Regions from separate parts of the Homo sapiens genome. Here regions 1, 3, 4, 5 and 6 are each linked to region 2. Evidence: fine-mapped expression QTL. A gene starts in region 2. Each other region holds a variant in brackets. All regions are shown on one strand. Distances are between the middles of the regions. Region 1 has its middle 6.3 kb from the start of GLG1. Region 2 holds the start of RFWD3 (ring finger and WD repeat domain 3). Region 3 overlaps GLG1 (golgi glycoprotein 1). Region 4 overlaps GLG1 (golgi glycoprotein 1). Region 5 overlaps GLG1 (golgi glycoprotein 1). Region 6 overlaps RFWD3 (ring finger and WD repeat domain 3).

Region 1 (5,335 bases), 54 kb after region 2:
TTTCACCATGTTAGCCAGGATGGTCTCGATTTCCTGACCTCATGATCTGCCCCGCTTAGCCTCCCAAAGTGCTGGAATTACAGGCATGAGCCACTGCACCCGGCTAATTTTTGTATTTTTAGTAGAGACTGGGCTTTACCATGTCAGCCAGGCCAGTCTTCACCTCCTGACCTCAGGTGATCTGCTCGCCTTGGCCTCCCAAAGTGCTGGGATTACAGGCGTGAGCCACCACGCCCAGCCATGCTATGCCTTTTATATGAAAGAGATTCTCTAGTTAAAGAAGTTACTCAGATGTGGTGACCTTGAAAATGAGCCTCTCAGATCTCCAGCTGTGGGGAACATGATTGACCTCTGTTTGATCTGCTGAGCACTGAAATCTACAACTGCATTCATCCCAAGGATCCTCCTAGTCTTGACTAAGAGTGATAGGGCTACTGACGCAGGCCCATTTCTGGAAGACTCAGTGACAGGTAACTTTTGCATGAGGACTATCCTATGGCCTTGGCCAACTTTCTTTTTTTTTTTTTTTTTTTGGAGACGGAGTTTTGGTCTTATTGCCCAGGCTGGAGATCTTGGCTCACTGCAACCTCCGCCTTCTGGGTTCAAGTGATTCTCCTGCCTCAGCCTCCCGAGTAGCTGGGAATACAGGTATGCACCACCATGCCCGGATAATTTTTTGTGTGTTTTTAGTAGAGACGGGGTTTCTCCATGTTGGTCAGGCTGGTCTCGAACTCTCGACCTCAGGTGATCTGCCTGCCTTGGCCTCCCAAAGTGCTGGGATTACAGGCGTCAGCCACCGTGCCGGACCTTGGCTGACTTTCTTAGAAATGAATTTCAGTTTAAGTTGAGTCTTAGATGTTTCCACCGAATCCTCCCGTCCTTCCTTCCCTCCCTCTGTACTTCACACAGTGTTGGACCAGCATCATGGTCACATGGCTCTCTCAGCCACCTCATTTTTCCTACAACTGTTGCCCCTAATAAATTTCTTGCATAGGTAATCCCCTTTTGTTGTCTGCTTCCTGGCAGACCTGGACTCACACAAGTAGTGCCAGGAGTGTTCCAAGAAAACAGGTGGTAAGACGGGGCTGACTAGGGCCCCAGAATAATAAAGACCCGGTGGCAATGTTTAAGTGCCAGAAGCCAGGAGACCACAATTACCACCATTACCAGCAAGATCAAAGGTGATGACCAAGGGCCAGATGCGGTGGCTCATACCTATAATTCTAGCACTTTGGGAGGCCGAGGCAGGAGGATCACTTGAGGTCAGGAGTTCAAGACCAGCCTGGCCAACATGGTAAAACCCTGTCTCTACTAAAAACACAAAAATTAGCTGGGCGTGGTGGCACACGCCTGTAGTCCCAGCTATTCGAGAGGCTGAGGCCGGAGAATCTCTTGAACCCGGGAGGCAGAGGTTGCAGTGAGCCGAGATTGTGCCACTGCACTCCAGCCTGGGTGACAGAGCAAGACTCCATCTCAAAAAATAATAAGAAAATAGCGACCAAGGGGTCTTGACCAGCGGGGAGTATAGAGATGGTTAATAAAGGATAACATCACCCAAGACCAGCAAGGGAACTATTCAACATCTATAGCCAATAAGGTCCACAAGAATGGAGGAACAGGAGGCTAAGGGTGGTCACCCCCAATAAGTCATGCTCCTTTGCCCAGCTTCTAGAGCTGAGGCTTTTTTTTTTGAGATGGAGTCTCACTCGGTCACCCAGGCTAGAGTGCAGAGGTGTGATCTTGGCTCACTGCAACCTCCACTTCCCAAGTTCAAGCAATTCTCCTGCGTCACCCTCCTGAGTAGCTAGTACTACAGGCATGTGCCACCACACCCAGCTAATTTTCGTATTTTTAGTAGAGACGGGGCTTCACCATGTTGGCCAGGATGGTCTTAATCTCTTGACCTCATGATCCGCCCACCTCAGCCTCCCAAAGTGCTGGGATTACAGGTGTGAGCCACTGCTCCCTGCCCAATCTGAGCCAATTTTCAGATCCAGAATCCATTGATGAAAGTGGTGGCCAGGAGCCTAACACCAAAGACCCTACAACACCATGGCAGCCGTACCATGGCACAAGGGCCCTCAGGCCTTCCCCAGAGGAACTTGTGGCTACTTACTTGGGTGACTGTACATTGGCAAAAGGGAAGTAACCGAACATTTTCAAGACTATCGGACACAGACTTCAAGGTGAAATCAATCATTAGAGGCCAAAAACATCATTATAGCCCCCTGGCCTGTAGGGGCCAGGTAATAAATGGACTCCTGCCTAAAGTGGTAAGGTATGGCTCTCAGCTCACTGGATGTGTGGACCCACCCAGAGATTTACATAGTCCCCAAATGTATAACTGGAAATGACCTGGAATAACCCCACATTGTATTTCTGGCCTGTGGGGCAGGGACTATCATGGGCAGGAAAGGCCAGATGTAAATCTGTGAAATTGCTCCCTACCCGTGGCTAAGATTGTACGTTAAAAACAATGTTCCAAGGCCAGGCTCAGTGGCTGTAATCCCAGCACTTTGGGAGGCCAAAGTGGGCAGATCACCTGACGTCAGAAGTCCAAGACCAGCCTGGCCAACATGGTGAAACCCCCGTCTCTACTAAAAATACAAAAATTAGCTGGGCGTGGTGGCAGGCTCCTGTAATCCCAGCTACTCAGGAGGCTGAGGCAGGAGAATCGCTTGAACCCGGGTGGCAGAGGTTGCAGTGAGCCGAGATCGCGCCATCGCACTCCAGCCTGGGGA[A/G]CAAGAGCGAGACTTCATCTCAAAAAAAAAAAACAAAAAAAACAAAAACAGTGTTCCGAGAGTACAAGTCTGAGGTGGAGGGAGTCATGGCAGGACAGGCGTTTAGAAAGTTTCTTCCACTCGGCCAGGTGCTGTGGCTCACGCCTGTAATCCCAGCACTTTGGGAGGCAGAGGCGGGCGGATCACAAGGTCAGGATATCGAGACCATCCTGGCTAACACGGTGAAACCCTGTCTCTACTAAAAATACAAAAAATTAGCCAGGCGTGGCAGCGTGTGCCTGTAGTCCCAGCTACTCGGGAGGCTGAGGCAGGAGGATGGCGTGAACCCGGGAGGTGGAGCTTGCAGTGAGCCGAGATCGCAGGACTGCACTCCAGCCTGGGCGACAGAGCGAGACTCTGTCTCAAAAAAAATAAATAAATAAAAAGAAAGTTTCTTCCACTCTTTGAGCGAGTACTGGTTGAAAGGAGCGCTGCTGAAACTGTAACCAGAGGAGGCATTATGCTTCCAGAAAAATCTCAAGGAAAAGTATTGCAAGCAATAGTAGTCGCTGTTGGATCGGGTTCTAAAGGAAAAGGTGGAGAGATTCAACCAGTTAGCATGAAAGTTGGAGATAAAGTTCTTCTCCCAGAACATGGAGGCACCAAAGTAATTCTAGATGACAAGGATTATTTCCTATTTAGAGATGGTGACATTCTTGGAAAGTATGTAGACTGAAATAAGACACTATTGAAAATGGCAGCAACATGAAGCTGCCCATTCCACTGAAGTTCTGAAATCTTTCTCAAAGTGCTGGGATTGCAGGCGTGAGTCACCGCACCCAGCTGAAATCTTTCATCATGTAAATAATTTCCATCTCTCTCTCTTTTTTCTTTTTCTTTTTTTTTTTTTGTGACAGAGTCTCGCTCTGTCGCCCAGGCTGGAGTGCAGTGGCGCAATCTCGGCTCACTGCAGTCTCCACCTCCCGGGTTCACGCCGTTCTCCGTTCTGCCTCAGCCTCCCAAGTAGCTGGGACCACAGGTGCCTGCCACCACGCCCAGCTAATTTTTTGTATTTTTAGTAGAGACAGGGTTTCACCATGTTAGCCAGGATGGCCTCGATCTGCTGACCTCGTGATCCACCCACCTCGGCCTCCCAAAGTGCTGGGATTACAGGCGTAAGCCACCGCACCTGGCCTCCATATCTCTCTTTTATAATAAGCTCATGATAACTAATCACAAAAAAAAAATGTTCCATTGGGAGGATGGGGATTGGTGAAGATTAGAGCCACCATTACAGACCTAAAGAATGCAAATGTGGTTCTGAAAGATGGTGGAGAGTGAAAACTTTTCCAAACTAGTGGAAATGCTGGCTGTGCTCTTAGTCATTCCACTTTGTATGTAAGATGAGAATATATACAGATTCCTGGACAAAGTCCAATGGCCTGGCCTGGAGTAGAGGCATGTGGATGAACGTGTGGGGGTGAGTACAATATATAAAGATTTTTGTATCTCTTAATAATGCCCTCCAGAAAGCCTCCACCATAGAAGAGGCACTGAGCAACCAAGTAAGCAAAATGACACAGCCAATTCACATGAGCTAGCCTCTAGCTCCTCCTGACCCGACATTCTGGGCACGTGAACAGAGCAGCCATAGCAGCAGACATGCAGGTTCCATGTGAGCTCAGTAGCATGGACTCCCACTCACCAAGGTACATCCAGCTACTGCTGCCCCTGAATGTCCAACTTGTCAGCAACAGAGAGCAACACTGAGTCTTTTTTTTTTGGAGACAGAGTCTTGCTCTGTCGCCAGACTGGAGTGCCCTGGCGCAATCTCGGCTCACTGCAACCTCTGCCTCCTGGGTTCAAGCGATTCTCCTGCCTCAGCCTCCTGAGTAGCTGGGATTACAGGCGCACGCCACCACGCCCAGCTAATTTTTGTATTTTTAGTAGAGACGGGGTTTCACCGTGTTGGCCAGGATGGTCTCGATCTCTTGACCTTGTCATCTGCCCGCCTTGGCCTCCCAAAGGGCTGGGATTACAGGCGTGAGCCACTGCGCCCACCCTGCAACACTGAGTCTTTGATAGGCACTGTTTTTTTTTTTTTTTTTAGACCGAGTCTCGCTCTGTTGCCCAGGCTGGAGTGCAGCGGCGTGATCTCTGCTCGGAGCTGCAACCTCCACCTCCTGGGTTCAAGAAGTTCTCCTGCCTCAGCCTCCGAGTAGCTGGGATTACATCCATGAGCCACTGCGCCTGACCCCCTTTTTTTTTAAATTTTTTAATTTTTTTATTTTTCTGAGACAGGATCTCACTCTGTCACCCAGGCTGGAGTGCAGTGGCATAATCTCAGCTCACTGCAACCTCCACTTGCCGCTTTCAAGTGATCTTCCCGCGTAAGCCTCCTGAGTAACTGGGACTATAGGTTGCACCATTATGCCCAGCCAATTTTTGTATTTTTAGTAAAGGCCTGACCTCAGGTGATCCACCCGCCTCGGCCTCCCAAAGTGCTGGGATTACAGGTAGGTGTGAGCCACCATGCCTAGCAGGCCTTCATTTTGAATGCTTATTCCCACCTCCTTAGAATCTTGAACTAGTTATTAATGTCTGATTTTGGAACA
Region 2 (5,335 bases):
ATCTTCAGGGCCTTTTACTTGCACAGGATGCCTTCCAAGGCCCTGTACCTGATTTTTCCCAACACTTATGTATGAAAATTTCCAGATACACAGAAAAGTCAGTACAATTGTACTCTGAACAACCATATACCTACCACCTAAATTCTACAACTAACAATTTATTATATTTGTTTTATCACATACCTATTTATCTGCTTGTGCCTCTTTCTAGCCATTAATTCATCCTGATTTTTTATGCACTTCATTCCTAAACACTTCAGCATTTATGCCATTAACTGGAGTTTATCTCTCTATGAGCTTTTTTTTGGCGGGGGGGTGGGAAGGTAAGTTTTTGCTGTGAAAAATTTGTGTGAAATGCACAAATCTTAAAGATAGCATTTGATGAGTTTTGACAAATGCATACATATGAGTAATCCAAACTCTATCAAGATCATGAACATTATGGCCGGGCGCGGTGGCTCACGCCTATAATCCCAGCACTTTGGGAGGCCAAGGCGGGTGGATCACCTGAGGTCAGGAGTTCAGGACCAGCCTGGCCAACATAGTGAAACCCCACCGCTACTAAAAATACAAAAATTAGGTGGGCGTAGTGGCACGTGCCTGTGATCCCAGCTACTCAGGAGGCTGAGGCAGGAGAATCACTTGAACCCAGGAGGTGGAGGTTGCAGTGAGCCGAAATCATGCCATTGCACTCCAGCCTGGGCAACAGAGCGAGACCCTGTCTAAAAAAAAAAAAGTTCTAGAGCTAAAAAAGATTATTCATATGGCACAAAGTGATCTCCTACTAGTCCAAAGTTCAAAAACATTTTAATAAAGTCCATTCATATATCTTTTGTTTGCTTTCCAATGGAATACTACGTTTATTGAGGCAAAATCACATTATTTTTAGTTCTTGGAGTCAAAAAGCGTACACGAATGTTCTTCAACACAGTTACTAAAAATACAAGACCAAGTTGAATGTGCCAAAGAGATACCATTCAGTTGGGTTTTCTAGAGTCATCAGGAAGAATATTAGAGAAGGGATTTACATGGTTGGTTTCCATAGCTTGATAGACCAAACACACACAAAAAAACTGCCACAACAACAAACAGCAAAATTTTTATCCATACAGGAATGGAGCGTCCCTTTTTTTTGTATTTTCTCACTTGACGTCTGCCAAGGGAACATACTTAGGAACATATGTAGATGAAAACGACTCCTCCATCCTCAAATCACTGAGTTCTAATGGCCGGCCTGCAGCTCCTTTGATTGTTCTGCGGCAACTAGCACTAATTCTTGTTGGTGTAGTTGCTTCATAGGGGAACATTTCCTTAAGAATATCCCTTTCTACTCTTCTTTCCTGTGTTTTTTTTCTCCCACTTCAGCTCTTGTCAATGGTTTCTTTGGTGTTCTTCTGGGTATGTCTGAGAATTCAGTGACTGGCAGAATAGGAAATGCATGCTTGAAATTTCCAGTCACCCTATTGACAATTAAGGATTCGTTGTTTGAAGCAATTATAGTTTCAGCTATGGGAGTACTCGCTGAAATTACTGCTCCATCTATACGAAAATATTCTGAAGCGTGCACCCTTTTGCTTGGAGTTCTTCTTGACCCTCTTGTAGATTCCCTAGTTAATAATGCCTGCAGAGGTCCGCCTTTTGAAGATCCACTTGTCCATTCAGTCCCAGTTATTCCAGCTTGAGAATAGCTCTCCTTGTGCTCAACTCTTCTTTGCTTGAGGGTTACTGGAGTCTTTACTCCCCTGTTTAGCGGTTCTCTCTTCTCAAACTTGAGCCCAATTTAGAGTCTTCTTCATTTTCACCATATCTGTCAGAATCATTACTTCCATTCTGCCTTGTATTTTCTGCTGAAGAAGAAATTGTTGCTGAAGGAGACGATCTTGATTCTGTTCCTTGCTCCCTCAGTTTCAAAAGCTATTTCTCATACAGCTTCCTGGTTGTTCCCACAATAGGACCACAATTCACTCCGTATTTCACAAGCTGATCCAAAGGATCTTCATTAGTGAGTTCTGTTACATCTAGATCGTCTTTATCATCTTGTCTGGGTTTATCAGTTTTCTTTGTGGCTTTCCTGCCGGCGGCGGGCTCGGAGCCGAGACGGCTGTGGGCTCGCGCTCCTCGTACGTAGCTGGAGAATTCCGGGGGCCCCTTTCTTTTGGCGCTGGCGGCGAGCGGCGGCCCTAACAAGTGATTTGAGACTGTTCAGTAGCTCAGATCCCTTGCAGCGGTTTGAGATTGAAGAGATTATGTAGGCAAAGTATTTTGCGTGAGCTCTTCAACCCCATGAGAGGATACATATGAACTGGACTGTCCTACGCCTCTTTACAGGCTCCGAAATTCAAAATATTGAAATATTTTGAAATTATTCGATTAGCTGCTATCCTTTGGATACAGATAACTCCTTCACTAAAGCGTTAGGGATAAGCAGCAGGAGTCAGTTTTAATATCATCATCCCCATTCCAAAATGGACCGAGAAATCATATAACTTTCTCCCGCCAGAAAGTTCAAATAAAACGCGCTAAAAAAAAAAAAAAAAACCAAACAAAAAAAAAACAAAAAAACCTCCCATTTTTTCCGGGGCGGGTGCAAGGTGACGGACGTAGATTCCTGCCAATTGTAGGAGGCTTCCTCAAGCGCGGTCCCGCCTCGTCAGGACGAACTACCAGCCAATGAGAGCACCGCTGCTTCAGCTATCGGGGGACCCATTGAAGAAGAAGAGTGGGTATTGGCCACAGCGTAGGGCTTCTGTCCAATAGGAGCATGCCTGCCGGCGGCTCTGGCGGGAGCTTGAGCGGCTCCGGAAGTGGCAGTTGGCGTAGGTGCATTCGGAGTGCGGCCGAGGTAACTACCGAGTCTTCGGCGGGCTCGCGAGCCCGGCCGCGGCCTGCTGGTTTCAGGTGAGGAGGGGTGTTGCTTCTCCTCAGGCCTTGGGCCTCTAGCTTCGGGATAAACCTCCCCACGCCTGATTCCTGGATTGGGATTCAGGAGACACCCCACGAGGTGGGCTGCACGCGGGCTTGGAACCCGGCGGCCTGAGGGGATTCGGGCCCTCGGGGCGGCGCCAGTGGTCGGGGCTAAGGAGCCCGAACCCCCGCGCGTATCTGGGTTGCTGGGCGTGGGGGCTGGGCAGGCGAGAGCTCGGGGCGATCACTGAAGGAGCCGAGTTCGCTGCTGCGGGGCCTGCCCTGGCCGGGGTGGGAGGTCGCCCGGCCCTTCCCCCGAGAGCCTAGCCTCGGGCTCCTCAGCGGCGTTGCCTGCGCCCGCTCTGAGCGCCGATTACTTCATCACTTTAAAGTTGATGGAAGAACTTCATTTTTAATTTCATCACGGAAACTGTGGAGTAAAGACTTGTATTATCCCTGTTTTACAGGAGAACAAGTTGAGCCGAGTTTAGGAAACCCGCCCAAAGTTTCCCCATGTAGTAAAAGAACAGGGATTTAATATCTATGTATCTAATCAATCTATCTATCTATCTATCTATCTATCTATCTATCTATCTAATCTGTCTATCTAATCTATCTATGTCTTTCTTTCCCCATGTAGTAAAAGAACAGGGATTTAATTTCCTTCTTTCCCTCTCTCCCTTCCCCTCCCGTCTCCCTCTCCCTCCTCTTCCCCCTCCGCCTCTCCCTCTCCCTCTCTCTTCCTCCCTTTTTCCTGTTATAAAGAGAAAAAGGTGTTATAAAGAGAAAAGCGGTGGCTCAGGCCTGTAATCCCAGCACTTTGGGAGGCCGAGGCAGTCGGATCACCTGAGGCCAGGAGTTCGAGACCAGCCTGACCAACATGGAGAAACCCCATTTCCCAGCTACTCGGGAGGCTGAGGCAGGAGAATCGCTTGAACCCGGGAGGCCGAGGTTGCAGTGAGCTGAGATCACGCCATTGCACTCCAGCCTGGGCAACAAGAGTGAAACTCCATCTCAAAAAAAGAAAGAAAGAAAGAAAGAAAAGTCTCCCTGTTGCACCCAGGCTGGAAGAGCTCACTGCAGTCTCGAACTCCCGGGCCCCAGGGATCCTCCCACCTCGGCTTCCCGCAATAGCTGGGACCACAGGTGCGCGCCACCACGCCCGGCTCATTGTTTTATTTTTCTTTTTTCTTTCTTTTTTTGAGATAGAGTCTCGCTTTGTTGCCCCTGCTGGAGTGCAGTGGTGCGATCTCGGCTCACTGCAACCTCTGCCTCCCGGGTTCAAGCGATTCTCCTGCCTCAGCCTCCCAAGTAGCTGGGATTACAGGCATGCGCCACCACACCCGGGTAGTTTTTGTATTTTTAGTGGAGACGGGGTTTCACCATATTGGCCATTCTGGGACTCCGACCTCAAGTGGTCTGCCCTCGGCTTCCCAAAGTGCTGGGATTACAGGTGTGAGCCACCGCGCCTGACCTGTTCTATTTTTCTTTTTTGGTAGAGATGGGAATTTCACTGTGTTGCCCAAGCTGGTCTGGAACACCAGAGCGTAAGTGATCCATCCGCCTGGGCATTTCAGTGTCCAGGGATCACAGGCGTGACCCTCTGCACCGGCCAGAGCAAAGATTTGAACACTTCCCCCGCCCACCTCTTCTCAACCTTTAATTGAGGGGCTTTCGTCCTGCCTGTTGTGGCCATTGATTGAAACCTGAGTAACAAAGATGACAAGTCTGAGGTTGACATTTTAAGCACCGCTCACAGCACACATAAAAAACAGCGTTTGTGTGACATCCTCAAGGTTTGGGGTGCCCAGCCCATGGTCTCTCGTTCTAGGCACCTCCGACTGGCCTACAGTGGTTAGGAAGCTTCAGCTCCAGAACTGCACCGTTCCATAGAACTTTGTGCGACGAGAAAAGTGTTCTGTATTTCTGCTGTCCAGTATGGGAGTCACCCGCCCTATGTGTGTTTCTAGCAGTTGAAATGTGACCTGCACGACAAAGGAACTTATTTTATTTCTTTCTTTTTTCTTTTTTTAGACGGAGTCTTACTCTCTCTCCCGGTCTGGAGTGCAGTGGCGTGATCTCGGCTCAATGTAACCTCCACTCTCCGGGTTCAAGGGGTTCTCCTGCCTCAGCCTCCCAAGTAGCTAGGACCACAGGTGCACACCATCACGGCTGGCTAATTTTTTTGTATTTTTTGTAGAGACGGGGTTTTGCCGTGTTGCCCAGGCTGGTCTCCAACTCCTGGTCTCCAGCTACCTGCCTCAGTCTCCCAAAGTGCTGGGATTATAGGCGTGGGCCACAGCTCCTGGCCGAATTTGATTTTTATTTAATTTAAATAACCATATGGGAGTAGACAGTGCGGCCCCCTAGATTCTGCTCTTTTTAGTCCATTTCTCCCCTTTGTCTTCCTGAAGGCTGAGTTGCTTAATGT
Region 3 (5,335 bases), 100 kb after region 2:
TACTGCACCTGTCTAATTTTTATATTTTTAGTAGAGACAGATTTCACCATGTTGGTCTTGAACTCCTGACATCCAGTGATTTGCTCATCTCAGCCTCCCAAAGTGTTGGGATTACAGGCATGAGCCACCCCATCTGGCCTCAATTTTGTATTGTTTGTCAATTTTGAGAGGTTGACAAAACTTTAGGCATCCATAAATGTACTTATTTGATCTCAAATCCAACTGGGAGGTAACAAAACTGGCTTTTGCAAGGTGGGGAACAAGGACTTCAGGTTAGTTTTCTGTAGGGATTAGAGCAGGGGCAACCTCCTTATGCTGGGATCTCTTGTTTTTAGGAAAGGAATAAAAAACCTGGGCTGTTTGGGATCTTTCTGCTTCCTTAAAGTTTCAATTTGATGATGTTGCATTTAGCATGAGTGACTTCATTTAGGTTTGATCTGGTCTAGCCTATTGATGCCTAGTGAATAAGCTTAATCCAAAACAGTGGGCTCTCACAATTTTGTTTAACAGCTTCGCCTTTTTGGTCAGGTTCTCACTTGGGTGTGAGTGTTACTGAAACTTAGGGCTTTAGTGCTACTCAGTTACCATCCTTTTGGGTTTCCAGTCCTAGCACTTTATTCATAGGTTTTGGTGTCCTCATGATCATGCATGTCTTTGAGTGTTTATCATTCCTGCTGAAGAGAGACCATTTGAACTTACATAGATGGCTGCATGCAAACATTTATAACTTTTGAGAGAATATAATGCAGCAGGGAGACTGCTATTATGACTGTTAGGAGGATAATACTAAGAGTTTGGAGTATGCTCCTTAGCCAGAGTTCGCATGAACCAAACCAACTAAAATCAAATAGATCAAAGAATGAGCAAGATAAACAATCTACTCATTTCAACCAAGCAGCCAGTTCATTAATCCCCTACAACTGAATCTCTGTAATATCCAGTATATTCATCCACGTGCAACAAGAGGTGTCAGCAAGGCCTGGTATGATGGCTCACACCTGTTAATCCCAGCATTTTGGAAGGCCGAAGCGGGAGGATCCCTGAGGCCAGGAGTTCAAGACAGCGTAGGCAACATAGCAAGACCCTGTCTCTACAGAAAATACAAAAATTAGCCGGGCCTCGTGGCACATGCTGGTAGTTCCACTACTCAGGAGGCTGGGTGGGAGGATCACTTGAGCCCAGAAGGTTGAGGCTAAATGAGTCATGATTGAGCCACTGCAGTCCGGCCTGGGTGACAGAGCAAAAACCTGTCTCAAAGAATAAAAATAAAAGTGTCAGCAACTTCACAGATACTTCCCTGATTAGCCAGTAGGCAACCTTGAGCAATTCTGTTATCCAGTAGACCTTTAGCAAGATAATTTAAAGAAGTCTGTTTTGTAACCATAGCCTTTGCAGTAGAATCTGCTATGGAGCATATCATGAGGAACAAATTTCTTTTTTTTTTCTTTTTCTTTCTTTTTTTTTTTTTTGAGACAGGGTCTCACTCTGTTGCGCAGGCTGGAGAATAGTGGCGTGATCTCGGCTCCCTGCAACCTCTGCCTCCTGGGTTCAAGCAGTTCTCCCACCTCAGCCTCGCAAATAGCTGGGACTACAGGCACACGCCACCACGCCCCGCTAATTTTTGTGTTTCTGCTAGAGACAGAGTTCCCATTTTGACCAGGCTGGTCTTGAACTCCTGACCTCAAGTGATCTGCCCACCTCAGCCTCCCAAAGTGCTTGGATTACAGGCATGAGCCACTGCGTCCAGCCCATGAGGGACAAATTTCTAGACACTGTATCGTTTACTCCAAACTCTGGAAAAAGTGACCTAACAATGAAGGCCATTCAGAATGATGAAGGCTTCCAAGCACTAGTGTTCTTTTTCACCTCTGATGTAGGTTAAAAGGAGTGGACCAGTGTTCTCTTTCTGACAGAACCATTAAAATTCCTAACCCACATTGGACTGTCATCTTTCATCCATTAAGACATAATGCTGCCTATGGATAAGGTTGGCTGTAAAAGTTTTCACAAATAAAAGTGTGCCCCATTGGTGCACCATAAGACCCCTTTTCTGTTGTTCATAGAGGCATAAACAAGGAAAACATTGAGAGGTAAGAGTCTCATGATGACAGAGAAGTTTTGATCCATGCTTTTGGGAAAGCTGTCCATGTCTAGGGTGCCATCTGCTTCTGGGGGAAAACCTTTTCTAACTGGTTAGCTTTACGTTAAGATTTCCAATGGGTGTACAATTCCAAGTCTGGAGGGGCCCTCCTGCATTGTGATATCAATTGACCCAGTGTTTGAGGCCCCAGAGTTTTGCTTCATTGTGGGTAACAAGGGCAGTGTTTTCCTGACGTCATTTCCAGAAGAACCAACCTCCAGGTTCTAGATTGTGAAGGATTTGAATGTCCTCAGTGGGTGGGTCATGAAAAGCTTCCTTTACTGCCAGCACGGTAGCTCATGCCTGTAATCTCTACACTTTGGGAGGCCGAGGTGGGCGAATCACTGGAGGTCAGGTCTCTGGAACCCAGGAGTTCAAGACCAGCCTGACCAACATGGTGAAACCCCATCTCTACTAAAAATACAAAAATTAGCTGGGTGTGGTGGCGCATGCCTGTAATCCCAGCTGCTTGGGAGGCTGAGGCACAAGAATTGCTTGAACCCGGGAGGTGGAGGTTGCAGAGAGCTGAGATCACACCACTGCTCTCCAGCCTGGGCAACAGAGTGAGACCATCTACAGAAAATAAAAAAAAGAAAAGCTTCCTTTAGCTGGTGAAAATACACTTTGGTATAATGC[A/C]TTAAAGGCTTGCAGCATTTATTCATATCAGAGTTTGGGAGAGGAAGATACATGAGGTTCTATTATTAGTGGCATAGGCCTTCCAGTGACTATTTCATAATGAGTCAACTTATATTTTCTACTGGAAGCAGATGAGGTTGTCATCAATCTGCAATACCTTTGACCAAGGCAACCAGTCAATTCAGTTAGCTTCACCTAAAGCTGTTGTGTCTGTAATACCTTACTTAACTGTTTACAACTTGTCCAGTGAAACAAGTACCACTATCACTGGAGATTTCTCCAGGAATGCCCCGTGAGGGAAACACATTTTCTGACAACCTTTTAGCTACTGTTATAGCATCAGCCTTCTTGCATGAGAAAGCTTTTACCAGAAAACGTGTTGAAAATGACAGTTGAATGAAATTCCTCTATAAGTGTTCCAATGACCCATCAGGTAGCTGAAGTTTTAATTATCTTCCCAGGTTGTAGGTTTGATAAGCCAAACCTTGGTCATAAACCATTTTTAGCGATTTAGAGCAGTCACCACACCAATGTATATGTTTTCTATTTGGATCATTTTCTGTCTTCCATGATGAGTCATGGAGTGCAGAGCTTTTAATAATGGAAGATTTACGGATTCAGGAAGGACCAGGTGGCTGTGCAGGATCTCTGTGATTCCATGCTTAACATTGCATTTATAGCCTGTTAAATACCAATTTTGTATCTCCAATTCAGGTGCATAGCACTGTTCATTAAATGGGTTATCATAGGTAATTTGACTTGGAACATAGAGTTCATTCAAGTTGCATATCTTAACAGTTTTAGTACTGGCTGATTTAGCATGAAAATCTGGCAGAGTATTTTTCTTAGTATTCAGTTAATTTTTGTCCTGCTTGGGTTAGCAGTTTTATAAACCAGTCTCTTTATTAAAGTTCTGGGAATTCTTACCCAGTCCAAATTAGATGAGCCTAAAGTTATCAGAAACTTGTATTCAGTAGTGCTTATTAGGGTCCTTTCCATTACTTTCCATGAACGTTCTTGAAGACATAATGCTCTAGGATTTTACTTGGTTGTAAAGAGCTTAAAGAAAATGCATCCGTATAAAGCAATTAACTGTGGAAACAAAATGATCATGGTTAAAGACATAATTGACAAGAAAATTTGGTTGTGGTCATGAAGGGTGTGAGGGTGCAGGCCTAGGTGCCAATATTGGGGGCAGGGACCTCAGCCTTCTGAGGCTACTCACAGGCATGCTGCCCCCCATGCCCAGCTCTGACACCAGCAGGAGGAAGGTGCTGGCTGCTGCAGGATCCTGGCTTGCTGCCTGTTGGCCCCGATCCTGCCCCATCCCTCCAGCTGGGCACCCCCAGGTGCTGCCATGCAACCAAGCAGGACTGTGCAGGACTGCGCAGGACTGCGTGGTGCCAGACTATATCTCTTCTAAAAATTCATTCAATTTGAAATAACCTTTAAATAACTTTTTTTCTCAGCAAACACATATTTTTATGCCTTTATAGCTTTCCTTACAAAAACATATCTTACTTTCTTTACATATTCTATATACAGAATTGCTTCTCTCTTTCCTTCCTTCTTTCCCTCCCTTCCTCCCTTCTTTTTTTCTTTCGAGATGGGATTGCTGTGTTGCCCAGTCTGGTCTCAATCAAACTCCTGGCTTCCAGAGATCCTCCTGCCTCAGCCTCCAAGTAGCTGGGGTTACAGGCCTAAGCCACCATGCCCAGCTCAGGTTTAATTTTTCTTACAATTAGTTGCTTAAGCTTTGCCTTTTATAAAGAGTTTTTAGGGCTAGGCGCAGTGGCTCATGCCTGTAATCCCAGCACTTTGGTAGGCTGAGGCAGGCAGATCACCTGAGGTCAGTTCAAGGCCATCCTGGCCAACATGCTGAAACCCATCTCTACAAAAATACAAAAATTAGCTAGGCTTGATGGCAGTCAAGTTACTAGTTACTGCGGGGGCAGGGGGGCGGCGGGGGGAGGCTGAGGTGGCAGAATCGCTTGAACCTGGAAGACGGAGGTTGCAGTGAGCTGAGATCGTGCCATTGCACTCCAGCCTGGGCGACAGAGTGAGACTCCGTCTCAAAAAAAAAAAAAAAAAAAGACAAAAACTGAGGTCCCAATTCAAAGCAGTTAGGAGGAAATCCCCCCTTTCTTTGATTCTGGAGTCCTGGGGGAGCTTCAGCCTTTTTGTTCTATTCAGACCTTCAACTGATGGAATGGGACCCACCCACATTGGGAAGGACAGTCTGCTTTGCTAGTCTGCCTGTCCAAGTGCTAATCTCATCCAAAAACAGCACCGTAGACCCACCCAGAACAATGTTTGGCGAAACGCGTGTGGCCCAGTGAAGTTGACACAAAAAATTAACCATCATCCTCATAAAATACCTAGTACAATCTGAATAAAATGTGTACCATTGTTGGTTCTTTAGTTGTGACAGATTGCACTATATAAAGTAAGCTATTAACAATAGGGGAAAATGAGAAGGCATATGGGAACTCTGTGTGCTGTCTTCTCAACTTTTCCATTAAGTCTAAAATTCTCCAGTGGTTTATTTTTTAAAATAAT
Region 4 (5,148 bases), 210 kb after region 2:
AGTCCCCTGCTTTTTTCCAACACACAGTTTTGTATCCCTAAAAGTAGTTAGTTACTCAATTAAATTCTGCATTCTGTACATCATCACCACCTTGCAACCTGTCCCAAAGTGGTCTCTGTTGTTAGCCCTCAACTTCCCCCCTTTTTTATTAGTATATGAAGTATTTACAGACAACAGATCTGATGCATTTCCCCTTCAAAAGCTCTGTCTGCAATGACCCTCCCTTTCCAGGAAGTGCTAAACATGCTGAAGGAAAGCAAAGCAGACATCTTTGTTGACCCGGTACTTCATACTGCTTGTGCCCTGGACATTAAACACCACTGCGCAGCCATCACCCCTGGCCGCGGGCGTCGTAAGTCTCTGTGTTCACTCTTGATCCTGTCTGAACTCTCTTGGGAAGAGCAAAGACTCCCTCTTAGACATCAGTTGCAGCTACTGTGGTCTGTATGGTCTGTAGTTGTAGCCCAGTCATAGACAACATTCCCTGGGGACCTGGGTGATGCCAAAACTAGACCTTTATGGCATCATGAATTTAGGAATAAGCCTGCGAGTTTGAACTGGCCTTGTCATGACTGGAGCTAAAGATTTGATGAACAGGGAGAATTGAGGTATTTATTAGGGAAGCAGAAGTTAAAGTCATCATCATGGTCCTTTTCCTGGTGCCGAAACTAGAAGCCAGCTTCACACACTTCCCCGGTGACGACAGTGGACTCAGTAGACAGGTTCTGTGTGAGGAGGGAGCCAAGGCAAGTGTGAGAGTTCTTTTTGAGCCACGTATACCCAATAAAACTAATAGAAGTTGTTTGTTTGTATTTTTATTTATTTTTTTGAGACAGAGTCTCACTCTGTCACCCAGGCTGGAGTGTGGTGGCATGATCTCAGCTCACTGCAACCTCCGCCTCCTGGGTTCAAGTGATTTTCCCACCTTAACCTCCTGAGTAACTGAGACTACAGGCACCCACCACCATGCCTGGCTCATTTTTGTATTTTTTAAGTACAGACAGGGTTTTGCCATGTTGGCCAGGCTAGTCTCAAACTCCTGACTTCAAGTGATCCACCCACCTCGGCCTCCCAAAGTGCTGGGATTACAGGCATAAGCCACTATGCCCAGCCTGTTTTCGTTTTAATTTTTTGAAACAAGGTCTTACTATAATGTAGTCTCAAAGTCGTGGGCTCAAGGGATCCTCCTGCCTCAGCTTCCCAAGTATCTGGGATTACAGGTGTTTGCCACCACACCTGGCTCTAAAAATAAGGAGGTTTTAAGAGAGGCTTCGGACGCCAACCCTGGAGGTTACATATCATTTCTCTCCATTGTTGGATCCTGGATCAAGTTTCCTAGTATGTATTTAACTTTGTTGAGCCTGCAGATCTGAATTCTCTGGTGGTTGTGCACCCTCTTCCTCATCTTTACAGAAATTTCTCTATTCTGTACAGTTTCAGGTTCTTCTTATTATTCATTTCCTCCCACAGAAATGTCCTGTCTCATGGAAGCACTGGAGGATAAGCGGGTGAGGTTACAGCCCGAGTGCAAAAAGCGCCTCAATGACCGGATTGAGATGTGGAGTTACGCAGCAAAGGTAATGACCAAGAGAATCTCCTTTTTTAAAAAAACAAAAAAATATGGAACACTTCACCAATTTGCATGTCATCCTTGAGCAAAGGCCATGCCACTCTCCTCGCTGTGGCTGTCCAGCCTCTTTTAGATATCGCACTGGTCTTGTCCTTATTGTGAGACTAGCAATAAGTGCGTTTGAAAACGTGGTCAGGGCCGGGCGCGGTGGCTCGCGCCTGTAATCTCAGCGTTTTGGGAGGCCGAGGCAGGCAGATCACGAGGTCAGGAGATCGAGACCAACCTGGCCAACACGGTGAAACCCCGTCTCTACTAAAAAACAGTAAACATGGTCAGTGTGCTTTTAGAATTCCTTGGCTGCCCGTGAGCCTGGAGCCGTCTCCCTGTGCATCGGGCTGTCTGCAAGGCTTTGCCAGGGCCCTCCTTTCTCATTTCGCCCACTGTTCACCGCTGAAAAGTGAGTCACCCAAAGACAAAAGAGATGTCACACCCATGGCAAAAGAAAGAAATCCAGCCTCGCCTATGATGAAGCTTGCTTTTATCATTTTACAGTCTTTAGGAGAAAAATACATATTTGAGGCCAGTACTCATCTGGTCTGGAACATGGAGAAGAAGGGGATGAAGAAAGACTGTAGGACACTCATGAATGTGTATGATACCCAGGTAGACTTGGGCTAGGGGTAATTTTTCCTACAGAGGTTCAGCCTCAGTGAGAAGAATAACAGTTCTTCTCGTGCATACATTGCTTTGTAGTTTACATAACGCTTTGGTGGACGTATTGCCTGATTTGAACTTTGAAACCCTGTGAGGTAAGTATAATGACTGTTTCGTCACTTTACAGTGAAGGAAACTGACTTCAGAGGTCACGACTTGCCCAGAGTCCCTCTGGTTTTTAGAGCCATGCTTTTGTATTGACTCATATTGGGATAGACATCTGCAGTGGCCTAAGATCAAGAGAGTAATCCCAGGACCACCCCTCCTTCCTGGCCAATTTTATCACCCTTTTACTTCCAAGTCAAGGGTAACAAGTCAAGAGGAACAATCAGAGAAAGTCTTCATAGGTCGACAGCAGGAAGGTACAAGGGAGGGCTCCTGTCTGTCACAGTAGTCAACACTCTCCTCACCCTTCTGCCAAGGGAAGAAAGTTGCCTTTAAAGC[C/G]GGTGGCTCAGGGAAGCGGCAGCAGGAGATGCTGCGTTACTTCATTCTGCCTCATTGTGTCCAGTCCTTTGAGCTGTGTATTATTGCTTCAGAGTGACTCAGAGTAATTCACGGCTTGTTTTGTGTTGGCAACTATTGGAGCTCAAATCTCATTCATCTCACGCCTCCCTACTCTGTTCTGTGTACGTGATATGAGCATAGAAACAGCCCAGATGCCTCTGGGCCACACCATCTCAGCAGCCAGGCTGGGATGCAAAAGAATGGGGACATGTGCACCTGGGGACCCTTTTGGTCCTGATTCTGCCATAGCAGGCTACCATCAAGGTCCGTTAGGGAAAGCAGTGGAAAACTGAGGATGAAAGATAGCTGAGGTTAAATTATAAATGTCCACAAGTGGAGGGCGGTTAAATATATTCTGTCAATATAAGTCTTGTTTGCGGTGCAGTGGTGTGAACATGGCTCACTGCAGCCTCGAACTCCTGGGCTCAAGTGATCCTCCTTGAGTAGCTGGGACCACAGGTGCACGCCACCACACCCAGCTAATTTTATAATTTTTTGTGGAGACAAGGTCTTGGCTATGTTGTCCAGGCTGGTCTCGGCCTGCACATTGTTTTTGATGTGGGAAATGCTTATGATATAATGGTGAATGAAAAAAGTCAAAATACAGGCTGGGTGCAGTGGCTCACACCTATAATCCCAGCACCTTGGGAGACCGAGGCAGGAGGATCACTTGAGCCCAGGAGTTCGAGACCAGCTTGGGCAACATAGGGAGACCCCATCTCTAACAAAAAAAAAAATTTTTTTTTTTTTTTTTTTTTTTTTTTTTTTTTTGGGGACGGATTCTCGTCCTGTTGCCCAGGCTGGAGTCCAGTAGTGCAGTCTTGGCACACTGCAACCTCCGCCTCCCGGGTTCAAGCAATTATCCTGCCTCAGCCTCCCCAGTAGCTGGGATTGCAGGCGAGCGCCACCACGCCCAGCTAACTTTTGTATTTTTAGTAGAGACAGGGTTTCACCATGTTGGCCAGGCTGGTCTTGAACTCCTGACTTCATGGTCCACCATCTCAGCCTCCCAAAGTGCTGGGATTACAGGCGTGAGCCACCATGCCTGGCCAAAAAAAATTTTTTAATTAGCCAGGCATGGTGGTGCACTTGTAGTCTCAGCTACTCAGGAGGCTGAGGTAGGAGGATCCCTTGAGCTCAGGAGTTTGAGGTTGTAGTGAGCTGTGATCGCACCACTGTACACCAACCTGGGCAACAGCGCGAGACCCCAACTCAATGAAAAAAAAGCCAAAATATAAAATTTAGAAATAATATAGAATTTACAAGGCCGGGCGCAGTGGCTCATGCCTGTAATCCCAGCACTTTGGGAGGCCGAGGTGGGCGGATCACGAGGTCAGGAGTTCAAGACCAGCCTGCCCAACACAGTGAAACCCCGTCTCTACTAAAAATACCAAAAAAATTAGCTGTGCATGGTGGCGTGCACCTGTAGTCCCAGCTACTCATGTGGGTGAGGGAGGAGAATCGCTTAAACCTGAGAGGTAGAGGTTGTGGTGAGCTGACATCATGCCACTGCACAATGCCTGGGTAACAGTAAGACTTTGTCTCAAAAAAAAAAAAAAATAGAATTTACAAAATATAGAATATGTAAAACGATGTCAACTTTTATCTTTGTTTTTTAAAGAAAGGCAGCAAACGCATTTAAAGAGCATAAACCAAAAGATAGAAGAACCCATGGCCTTATAGAAGTCATTTAACCACACTCACCCCTGGGCACTGATTCTCCATCCAGAGTATGGGAGTGGTGAAATCTGCTTGCTAGGCTTGGTGTGAGTGCTAAATGAGTGAGGGCAGGGGGAGCCCTTCGTCCAGGGCCCGACACATCTTCAGTGTCCTGGTGTTAGTGGTGATCACTGTGATGGAATTGTGGGTGACTGCACCACTTTGTCTCTTTCTGTATTTCTAATTTTGTGCAGTAGACGTGTGTATAGTTTTATGATCAGGAAAAAGAGTTGTAGCTCTGTGTTGATTTTTCTTATCTCCTGCCCTCCCTCTCCAAAAGAAAAGACATAAATTAAACTAGGAACTGAGAGGGATAAGTTAGACCTAGCACTGCCACCAGCCCAGTGCTCTCTCAGAGAATCACATTGCCTTGTGTCATTCTAGGTGGCCCCAGCAGATGGCTTCTCTGATCTTGCCATGCAAGTAATGACGTCTCCATCTAAGAACTACATTCTCTCTGTGATCAGTGGGAGCATCTGTATATTGTTCCTGATTGGCCTGATGTGTGGACGGATCACCAAGCGAGTGACACGAGAGCTCAAGGACAGGTAGAGCCACCTTGACCACCAAAGGAACTACCTATCCAGTGCCCAGTTTGTACAGCCCTCTTGTATAGCATCCCCACTCACCTCGCTCTTCTC
Region 5 (5,335 bases), 140 kb after region 2:
AGATTGGCTATTTAGGTTAACTACTTACTCTTACGAAAACCTAGGTAAGTCAAGTACAAAATAAAACTAGAAGAATACTAGAAGATTAGAGGGAAGGCTTTTCTAAATATGACACAACCCCAAATGATGTTTTAAAAATATATATCTGCATCTATATCTGATTACATTGAAAGTTTTCTCCCCAAAAAATGTTTTGTAAAAAAGTATTCACAATGCAGATGAAAAGGACTATATTTGTTAATAGAAAATGCTATTAATAAACATAACAGACATGAATAGAATGTTCACAGGAAAAGAAAAAGGTGTCCAATAAACAGTAAAAAGTTTATTCTCCCTCAGAATCAAAAGCATAAAAATTCAGCAAAAAATGAGTGCACTGTTGTCATCCATTTGATTAGCAAATATCAAAAATTTGATAAATGGGTTCGCACCTGTACTCCCAACTACTCGGGAGGCTGAGGCTGGAGGACCCCTTGAGCCAGGAGTTCGAGGTAGCAGTGACCTACGATCACAAAACTGCACTGCAGCCTGGGTAACAAAGTGAGCCCCCCATCTCTTAAAAAGAAAAAAAAAAAAAGGATAAATACACAGTATTGATAAGGATGTGTGTATTTAAGCATTCTCTAGCCCATAGATCAAAAAACTACAACACTTAGGCCAAATCCAGTCTACTACCTGTTTTTATACATAAAATTTTATTGAAACAGCCACACCATTTATTTATGTATTGCCAGTGGCTGCTTTTCACACTAGGATGGCAAAGTTGAGTAACTGCAACAGTGACTACAGTTCCCTGAGAACTGTTACTTTCTGGCTCTCTGCAGAAGAAGTTGGCTGAACCCTGTTCAAGCCTATGTATGGGAATAAAAACAAGCTATAAAACAGTCAACCTAAAATGCATATGTTTTGACCCAGCATTTCTACTTCTATGAATTTATGGATAGTTAAAAGAATGGATAGAGATGTGTCTATAAAAGGATATTTGTTGTGGCATTATTTATAAAGCAAAGGATTAGGGGAAAACCTCAAAATCCATCAATAGACTGAATCTGACAGAAGAGAAACCCAGAAAAAAGTTGATGTGTGCCTTGGAACTCTCAAAGAGCCAGCCGGGCGCAGTAGTCCACACCTGTAATCCCAGAATTTTGGAAGGCTGGGTGGATCACCTGAGGTCGGGAGTTTGAGACCAGCCTGGCCAACATAGTGAAACCCCTCTACTAAAAATAAAAAAATTAGCCAGGCGTCGTGGCACACCCCTGTAATCCTGGCTACTCAGGAGTCTGAAACAGGAAAATCGCTTGAACCGGGGAGATAGAAGTTGCAGTGAGATCGTGCCACTGCCCTCCAGTCTGGGTGACAGAGTGAGACTCCGTCACAAAAAAAAAAAAAAAAAAAAAAGAACTCTCAAAGAGCCAAGGAATAGGAAGGATACGATACTGCTGAAAATGGGGGACAAATAGTATCCAAAAAACAGGAGATTTGGTGGAAGGTCTATGTAAGAAGCAGTCAGGACTCTTTAGAGAACAATTATATAACCCAGAAATTCTATAATATAGCCATTCATAATGTCCCGCATGCTATCAGAAATGGCTGGATATGAGAAGAAGCAGGAAGATATCAAGAGATAAAGTAGCCAACAGAGAGAGATCCAGAGAAGAGGTAATTCATATATTGGAATTATTAATAGCAGACAAGGACTTCAAATAACTAATAAAATAGAGGAAAATAAAATATTTTCCTATAAATAAAATAGAGGAAAATAAAATATTTTCCTATAAATAGAGGAAAATTAAAATGGATGAAAATATGAAGTATTTCAACCGAGAATTAGTCTTTATTAAGAAAATCAATTAGACATTTTTGGACTAAATGTAATTTCAGAAATTAAGAACTTATGGGTAGTTTTAAAAGACAGCTTTAGTGGACATAAAAACAGATTCATGGCCAGGTGCGGTGGTTCACGCCTGTAATCCCAGCACCTTGGGAGGTCAAGACAGGTGGATTACTTGAGGTCAGGAGTTCGAGACCAGCCTGTTCAACACGGTAAAAAACCCCATATCTACTAAAAATTACAAAATCAGCTGGGTGTGGTGGCAGGTGCCTGTAATCCCAGCTACTCAAGAGACTGAGGCGGGAGAATTGCTTGAATCTGGGAGGTGGAGGTTGCAGTGAACCACTATCGTACCACTGCACTCCAGCCTGGGCAACAGAGCGAGATTCTGTCTCAAAAAAAAAAAAAAGGCAGACAGAATGGGATAGAAGCAGTATTCGAAGAAATAATGGCCAAGATGTTTTCCAAATCTAATGAGAGGCATTAACCCATA[A/C]ATTCAACGAACTTAGTGAACCTCAAGAGAAATCCATACTCACCTAACAATTTTTTTTTTTTTTTTTTTTTTTTTGAGACAGAATCTCGCTCTGTCACTGAGGCTGCAGTGCAATGGTGTGATCTCGGCTCACTGAAACTTCCGCCTCTGGGGTTGAAGTGATTCTCCTGCCTCAGCCTCCTGAGTAGCTGGGATTACAGGTGCCCACAACCACGCCCAGCTAACTTTTGTATTTTTAGTAGGGACAGGGTTTCACCATGTTGGTCAGGCTGGTCTCGAACTCCTGACCTCAGGTGATCCACCCGCCTCGACTTGCCAAAGTACTGGGATTATAGGTGTGAGCCACCACACCTAGCCTAGACACATTATTAACAATCTGCCAAAACGAAAAGATAAAAAGAAAACTCAACAAGCAGGCAGAGAAAAAGAGACATTCTCTTGAGGGAAGGAAAATGACAGCTGGCTTCTCAACAAAGCAAGCAGTAGAAACTAGAGCAAATGAAACAATAAATGTAAAATGCTGAGAGAAAATGCCAACATGGAATTCTATATCCAGCAAAAAATACCCCTTTAAAAAATGAAAATAGGCCAGGCACCGTGGCTCACCCCTGTAATCCCAGCATTTTGGGAGGTAGAGGCAGGCAGATCGCTTGAGGCTAGGAGTTGAAGACCAGCCTGGCCAACATGGTGAAATCCTGTCTCTATTAAAAATACAAAAATGGCCAGGTTTTGTGGCTCACGCCTGTAAACCCAGCAGGCAGATCACTAGGTCAGGAGATCGAGACCATCCTGGCTAACACGGTGAAACCCCATCTCTACTAAAAATACAAAAAAGCTAGCCAGGTGTGGTGGTGGGCATCTGTAGTCCCAGCTGCTCGGGAGGCTGAGGCAGGAGAATGGTGTGACCCTGGGAGGTGGAGCTGGCAGTGAGCCGAGACTGCACCACTGCACTTCAGCCTGGGTGACAGAACGAGACTCCATCTCAAAAAAAAAAAAAAAAAGAATTAACCACCGCACCTGTAATCCCATCTACTTGGGAGGCTGAGGCATAAGAATCACTTGAACTGGGGAGGAAGAGGTCGCAGTGAGCTGAGATCCCGCCACGGCACTCACCCCTGGCCGACAGAGCAAGACTCTATCTCAAAAAAAATAAAATAGGTGTTATCAGACAAGCGAAAGCTGAGAATATTCATCTCCCACATTTGCACACTGTGAGAAATCCTAAATTCTTGAAGGTAAAAGGATCACAAATTGAAGCAGAGAAGTAGGAGCACTAGAAGAGAAAAATAATTGATACGTATGACTATTATTCTTTCATGCTTTAAGATAACTGACTTGGCCAGGCGTGGTGGCTCACGCCTGTAATCCCAGCACTTTGGGAGGCTGAGGTGGGTGGATCACCTCAGGTCAGGAGTTCGAGACCAGCCTGGCCAACATGGTGAAACCCCATCTCCACTAAAAATATAAAAATTAGTTGGGTGTGGTGGTGCACACCAGTAATCCCAGCTACTCAGGAGGCCAAGGCGTGAGAATCACTTGAATCTGGGAGGTAGAGGTTGCAGTGAGCCGAGATAGCGCCATTGCACTCCATCCTGGGCAAAAAGAGCAAAACTCCATCTCAAAAAAAAAAAAAAAAAAAAAGAACTGACTTAAGCCAAAACAATAACAGTATACTTTCAGATTATAACATGTAGAATAAAATATATGACAACAGTAGCACAAAGGGTGGGTAGGAATAAAAATATAATTTTACTTTGGAATATTCTTATATTGTGTATGAGGTAGCATAATATCAATTCAATTTCGACTGTGACCAAGTTAAGGATGTATAATCAGGATACAGATTTGTTTCACATAATGATTGTTCAGTTAATGGTATTTAGCCATCATGACCCTTACAGGTTGATAGCACTTTACCCAAAACACAGATTATGCCCTGAGACATTATTGTTCTAAGCAAATTTGCGTGTAGCGACTTACTCAACACTAGTCAGACTATCACATGGAACAAATTTGAATTCTACCTCATAGTTAGGAGTGCTAAAGGAGTGATAGCAGGAAGTGATCAAGTAGCATCTTCTGTTCCTCTTCAGTGTGTCTTGCACATACAGTATTTCTCCATGTCAAAAAGTGGTTTTTGGTGTTGGTTTTGTTTTGCTTTTTGAGACAAGGTCTTGGTCTGTCACGCAGGCTGGAGTGTAGTTGTGTGATCACGGCTCACTCCAGCTTCAGTCTCCCAGGCTCAAGTGATCCTCCCACCTCAGCCTCCTGAGTAGCTGGGACTACAGATGCACACCACCATGCCCTGCTAATTTTTGTATTTTTTGTAGAGATGGGGTTTCACTTTGTTGCCCAGGCTGACCTCTAACTTCTGGGCTCAAGCAATCCAACCTTCTCAGCCTCACAAAGTGTTAGGACTACAGGTGTAAGCTGCTATACCCGGCCCAAAGTGTATTTTTTAAATCTCAAAGATTCATCTACAGGTAATGTCATGAATCTTTCCACATCAGTTTTTTCTAAGTGCCAAAGTTCTAAGGAAAAGAATTACCATAAAATATGTCTTCATACTGATACTGAATGCCTGCCTCATAGTCAGTCATCTGATTTTACATTACTTTCCAGAGAATGATTCCCTCATACCCTGCCTTTACCAACCATCACCAACTCTCAAGTCTTCTCTTTCTCCCTTGGAGAGTACAATGACCTTCCATTATGTTATATTTTATGTACAAGTTATATTTTACTTTAAAACTGTTTGTTACTTATATACTATTTTCATTTTTCAATTGATACTTCTCTCTCGGAAAATTGTTTGGGTATCTGGCCAGCCTGAATAACTTCTATTTATTTATTTATTTATTTTTGAGATGGAGTCTTGCTCTGTCTCTATTTTGTAGAGATGGGGGTCTTGCTCTGTGGCCCAGGCTGGTATCCATCTCCTGGCCTCAAGTGATCTGCCTGCCTCAGCCTCCCAAAGTGCTGGGATTACAGGCATGAGCCACTGCGCCTGA
Region 6 (5,335 bases), 23 kb after region 2:
TGGGACTGCAGGCATGTGCCACCACACATGGCTAATTTTTTAAATTTTTAACAGGGACAAGGTCTTGCTATGTTGTCCAGTCTGGTTTCAAACTCCTGAGCTCAAGGAATCCTCCTGCCTTGGCCTCCCAATAAGCTGGGACTGTAGGTGTGATTACTACACCTGGCCTGCTTGGAACAATCTTATATAATTATCTTAGAATATATTTGTGACTGGCTGGGCATGGTGGCTCACGTCTGTAATCCCTGCACTTTGGGAGGCCAAGGCGGACGGATCGCGAGGTCAGGAGATCGAGACCATCCTAACTAACACGGTGAAACCCCGTCTCTACTAAAAATACACAAAATCGGGCTTGGTGGCAGGCGCCTGTAGTCCCAGCTACTCAGGAGGCTGAGGCAAGAGAATGGTGTGAACCCAGGAGGCGGAACTTGCAGTGAGCCGAGATTCTGCCGCTACACTCCAGCCTGGGCGACAGAGCGAGAGTCTGTCTCAAAAAAAAAAAAAAAAAAAAAAAAAGAAAATATTTGTGACTATGATCATGGGCTGCATAATAGTTCAGTCTATGACAGACCACATGTATGATGGTTGTCCCATTAGATGATAATACCAGGCTGGGCGCAGTGGCTCACACTTATAATCCCAGCACTTTGGGAGACCAAGGCGGGCGGATCACTTGAGGTCAGGAGTTCGGGACCAGCCCGGCCAACATGGTGAAACCCACCACTGTGCTACAGTTGCCTACAGTATTTGGTACAGTAACATCCTATACAGGTTTGTTGTCTAAGTATGTAATAGTTTACACCGTCTAGGTTTATTTAAGTACCTCTGGGATCATTCAATGACGAAATCGCCTAAAGACGCATTTCTCAGAATGTATTCCCATTGTCAAGCAATGCATGACTATATATCCATGAGGTATCTCTAGCAGAGAGATTGCTATGCCAAAGGAAAGATATATGTGTTTTAATTTTCATGGATAATGCCAAATGGTGCTCCAGAAATGTGTGCCACTTTACATTTAAGGCAACAGTATATAAGCATGTCCATATCTCATTTACCCACAACAGTGCTTGGTGTCATCAGACATCAATTTATACCAGTCTGATAGATGAAAAATGGTCTCTTTAATTTGCATTTCTTTAATTATAAGCAAACACTTATTGACCATTGTGTTTTCTTGTAAGCATTTGTATCCTTTGTTTTCTTTTTTTGCCCTCTGGTACACATGAGTTAAATATTTTATAGCTGCTATTCTTTATATGGATAGCTGCTTTTCTTCCTTTGAGTGAAGGAAAAAGTATCCAAGAATTTTATAAGATTTAAGAGTAGTATAGTTTTCATAGCTTATATTTTGTGACATTGCATTCTAGAAAGAATGACAAGTGATTCATAGGTGTTACAAGTGTTCTGTAGCCCTTTTGATTGTATCATTTTTTTTGCACTTCTGTTAATTTCTTAGTTGCACATCTTCTTCAAGATTGATTTTACATTTTCTCTAATTTGAATATATTCTGCTTTCCATCTAGCCATCTCCCCAGAAGTCTGAGCCTCTGCTACCTTCTGCTTCTATGGATGAGGAAGAAGGGGACACTTGTACAATATGTCTGGAACAGTGGACCAATGCTGGGGACCACCGGCTCTCAGCATTACGCTGTGGGCATCTCTTTGGGTATAGGTGCATTTCCACGTGGCTTAAAGGACAAGTACGAAAATGTCCCCAGGTAAGGACCATAGGTAAGGACACATTAACATGTTAAGTCAGGCAGATTCCTAGAACCACTCTAATTATGTCCTATTGGGTTCTTTAGTGCAACAAGAAAGCCAGGCACAGTGACATTGTCGTCCTTTATGCCCGAACCCTGAGAGCTTTGGACACTAGTGAACAGGAGCGCATGAAAAGGTAGGTGGTAAGAGTATGCCTGGCTGGAATGTTCCCTTTTGGTTCATTGTAGGCACATCTGAAAAAGAAGTTATGAGTCACTCGTAGTGAGGTTTTACTTG[A/T]CCTGTGACTTGGGATCTCTGGGGATCATTGGCAGTCTGTCTTACACTGTTATTTATAATTCATGTCTGATCATCTTCTTAAGGAAGTCTGCATCGTTTGCCTTATGTAGAGCATTAAACACAAGGATCTGGCACATTACTTCTGTTGCCATTTTTGCTTCTCATATCCCTGACCACCCCCCGCCACAGCAGTTCTCCATACAGAAAACTCATAAGTGAAGCTTTGCACATGCAGTGCAATGTAAAAAATTACCAGGATTTCGGAAGCACAAAACAGTTGCTAGGGCCGGGCATGGTGGCTCACGCCTGTAATCCCAGCACTTTGGGAGGCCAAGGTGGGCAGATCACAAGGTCAGGAGATCAAGACCATCCTGGCTAACACGGTGAAACCCCGTCTCTACTAAAAAATACAAAAAAATTAGCCGGGCATAGTGGCGGACGCCTGTAATCCCAGCTACTGAGGAGGCTGAGACAGGAGAATGGCGTGAACCCGTGAGGCAGAGCTTGCAGTGAGCCGAAATTGCACCACTGCACTCCAGCCTGGGCGACAGAGCAAGACTCCGTCTCAAAAAAAAAAAAAAAAAAAAAAAACAGTTGCTAGTAACACCACTCAGTATATGCTTCAAAAATATTAAAGAACATACACACCATTGAGAGAGAGGTACAGTGACATGGGTTCACACTTTACTGGTTTGGATGTACACAGGCAAAATCATTTTGAGACATCCTTGGAAATGTGTCTCTAAAGCCTTTGATCTAGTAATTGTTCAGGCATTCTAAAGAAACATTGAAGGCTGTGTACCAAGATTTACTTAATGAAACTTCATTTAGCATTGTTAAAAATCTAAGGCAAGGGGATTGCTTAGTTGAATGAACGGTGGTGTATGCATGAACAGAATACAATGTTGAAATGTGCATATGTTGTCCTGTGGAAGCATGTTATTAGTATGATTGCATTTTTGTGAACTAGAAAAAAAGTAAGGCTGGTGCGGTGGCTCACTCTTGTAATCCCAGCACTTTGGGAGGCCAAGGCAAAAGGATTGCTTAAGACCAGGAGTTCAAGACCAACCTGGCCAACATAGATCCTATCTGTATTTAAAATTTTTTTTAAAAGAAAGAAAAAAAGCTCTATAGGTAGTCACTGTACAGATTATTTTAGTTTTCTTCCTTGTTTTTACTCATTTGGTCCAACCAATGCTCACTTGTAGCGTTTTTAAATAATGGAAGATGTGTACAGAGAGGAATTTTGTTGAAAAGGCAAAATCTATACGTGTGGCTGTAATGGGTGATTATATTTAAAAACAATTCACTGATTACAATAAGGAATTAGTATACTCTCCAGCCTCATTAGAAAAAGTGAAGAGTTTCAAAATGCCGATACAGACTAATAAAACGAACAGCCTTTTACCCAATTTTATCAAATCTTAATGTTTTGCCATATTGCTTTGAGCCTTTTTGAAAATAAATAGGCTGGGTGTAGTGGCTCATGCCTGTAATCCCAGCACTTTGGAAGGCCGAGGCAGGAGGATTGCTTGAGACCAGGAGTTTGAGAGCAGCATGGGCAACATTGTGAGACCTTGTTTCTAATAAAAATGAAAAAAATTATCCGTGTGTAGTGGTACACACCTGTAGTCTCAGCTACTCAGGAGAGAGGATTTCTTGAGCCCAGGAGGTTGTGGCTGCAGTGAGCTATGGTCATGCCACTGCACTCTAGCCTGGGTGACAGAGTAAGAACCTGTCTCAAAAAAATAAAGATAAATCTGTTGACCAGGTCAAGAAGGAAAAAAAGGAAAGAAAATTTTAAAGAAGAAGAAGTTAATTATAGATTCAGTAGAAGGGCCAGGCACAGTGGCTCACACCTGAAATCCTAGCACTCTGGGAGGCTGAGGCAGGCAGATCGCCTGAGCTCAGGAGTTTGAGACCAGCCTGAGCAGCATGGCAAAACCCCATCTTTACTAAAAATACAAAAAATTATCCGGATGTGGTGGTGCGTGCCTGTAATGCCAGCAACTCGGGAGGCTGAGGCACGAGAATCGCTTGAACCTGGGAGGCGGAGGTTACTGTAAGCTGAGATTGCGCCACTGCACTCCAGCCTGGGCAACAGAGCAAGACTCTGTGTCAAATTTAAAAAGGTACACTAGAAGTCTTCCTGTGAACTAAGTTCTTAATTCCATAGAGAACTACTTTCATGAATTAGGTGTTCAGCATTCCCAAGAGTTATTATGTATTTGATTAGCTATATATGTATTTGTAAATTATACATAGTATGATATAGAAAGTTTTGTTTTGGTTTTTGGTTTCTTTGGTTTTTTTTTTTTTTTTTTTTTTTTTTGGAGACGGAGTTTTGCTCTTGTTGCCCAGGCTGGATTGCAATGGTGCAATCTTGGCTCACTACAACTTCCCGCCTCCCAGGTTCAAGCAATTCTCCTGCCTCAGTCTCCCAAGTAGCCGGGATTACAGGCGCCTTTCACCATGCCCAGCTAATTTTTTTTGTATTTTTAGTAGAGACAGGGTTTCACCGTGTTGGCCAGGCTGGTCTGGAACTCCTGACCTCGTGATCAGCCTGCCTTGGACTCCCAAAGTGCTGAGATTACAGGCGTGAGGCACTGCACCCGGCCAGAAAGTTTTTATACTGTATGCAAATGTTATGTTAGATTATAACTTTTTCTTCTGTAGCTTGCTTTTTTGCTTAATTTTATGCTTTGGGAGTATATCCTAGTTGATACATGGGACTCTAGTTTTTTTCATTTCAATTTCTTGATAATATTCTAGTTCTCTAGTCAAAATTAATCTGTTTAGGCCAGGCGTGGTGGCTCACACCTATAATCCCAGCACTTTGAGGGGCTGAGGTGGGCGGATCATCTGAGGTCAGGAGTTGGAGACCAGCCTGGCCAACATGGTGAAACCCCATTTCTACTAAAAATACAAAAATTAGCCGGGCATGGTGGCACGCACCTGTAGTCCCAGCTACTCGGGAGACTGAGGCAGGAGGATAGCTTGAACCCAGGGGGCAGAGGTTGTGGTGAGCCGAGGTCGCACCATTGCACTCCTGCTTGGGCAACAATGGCGAAACTCTGTCTTCAAAAAAAAAAAAAATTATCTGTTTGTGTTTTACATTGGTAGACATTTAGGTTGTCTCCACTTGTTAATATTAGCCATGCTGCAGAGAGGTCTAGCAATGGAATTGCTTTATTATAGGGCACATTTAATTTCAGCTTTACCTAAATATTGTCAAATTACTTTTCTAACTTAAACTTTTCTTGTTTAAAAAAAAAGGAGAGATTTCTCATTTTTTCATACCTTTGTGAATTTTATTTATTTTGAGACAGAGTCT

The links. PIP is the estimated chance that this variant, and not a neighbour inherited with it, causes the effect.
Region 1: its variant is the best candidate, but not a certain one, in a credible set for the expression of RFWD3 in thyroid (GTEx, PIP 0.64).
Region 3: its variant is the best candidate, but not a certain one, in a credible set for the expression of RFWD3 in whole blood (TOPMed, PIP 0.88).
Region 4: its variant is the best candidate, but not a certain one, in a credible set for the expression of RFWD3 in blood mononuclear cells (TOPMed, PIP 0.60).
Region 5: its variant is the best candidate, but not a certain one, in a credible set for the expression of RFWD3 in unexposed skin (GTEx, PIP 0.86).
Region 6: its variant is the best candidate, but not a certain one, in a credible set for the expression of RFWD3 in stomach (GTEx, PIP 0.74).

The regions. Positions count from the first base shown.
Region 1 is chr16:74,610,714-74,616,048 of GRCh38, reverse strand. It overlaps the pseudogene HSPE1P7. Among named protein-coding and RNA genes, the nearest start is that of GLG1, 6.3 kb to the right of the region's middle. The variant A/G (reference allele first, on the strand shown) is at 2,742.
Region 2 is chr16:74,664,349-74,669,683 of GRCh38, reverse strand. It overlaps RFWD3 (ring finger and WD repeat domain 3), which reads left to right and starts at 2,807. Exons shown (of 13, transcript NM_018124.4): 1 at 2,807-2,898. It also overlaps the pseudogene TMPOP2. RefSeq lists a silencer at 3,128-3,277.
Region 3 is chr16:74,559,861-74,565,195 of GRCh38, reverse strand. All of the region lies in intron 1 of GLG1 (golgi glycoprotein 1), which reads left to right. Among named protein-coding and RNA genes, the nearest start is that of GLG1, 45 kb to the left of the region's middle. The variant A/C (reference allele first, on the strand shown) is at 2,777.
Region 4 is chr16:74,453,078-74,458,225 of GRCh38, reverse strand. It overlaps GLG1 (golgi glycoprotein 1), which reads left to right. Exons shown (of 26, transcript NM_001145667.2): 24 at 232-352; 25 at 1,471-1,577; 26 at 4,892-5,148. The coding sequence ends at 5,059. It also overlaps the pseudogene RNU6-237P. Among named protein-coding and RNA genes, the nearest start is that of CLEC18B, 34 kb to the right of the region's middle. The variant C/G (reference allele first, on the strand shown) is at 2,729.
Region 5 is chr16:74,525,876-74,531,210 of GRCh38, reverse strand. All of the region lies in intron 2 of GLG1 (golgi glycoprotein 1), which reads left to right. Among named protein-coding and RNA genes, the nearest start is that of GLG1, 79 kb to the left of the region's middle. The variant A/C (reference allele first, on the strand shown) is at 2,325.
Region 6 is chr16:74,640,927-74,646,261 of GRCh38, reverse strand. RFWD3 (ring finger and WD repeat domain 3) reads left to right here. Exons shown (of 13, transcript NM_018124.4): 5 at 1,527-1,721; 6 at 1,809-1,900. Among named protein-coding and RNA genes, the nearest start is that of RFWD3, 23 kb to the left of the region's middle. The variant A/T (reference allele first, on the strand shown) is at 2,002.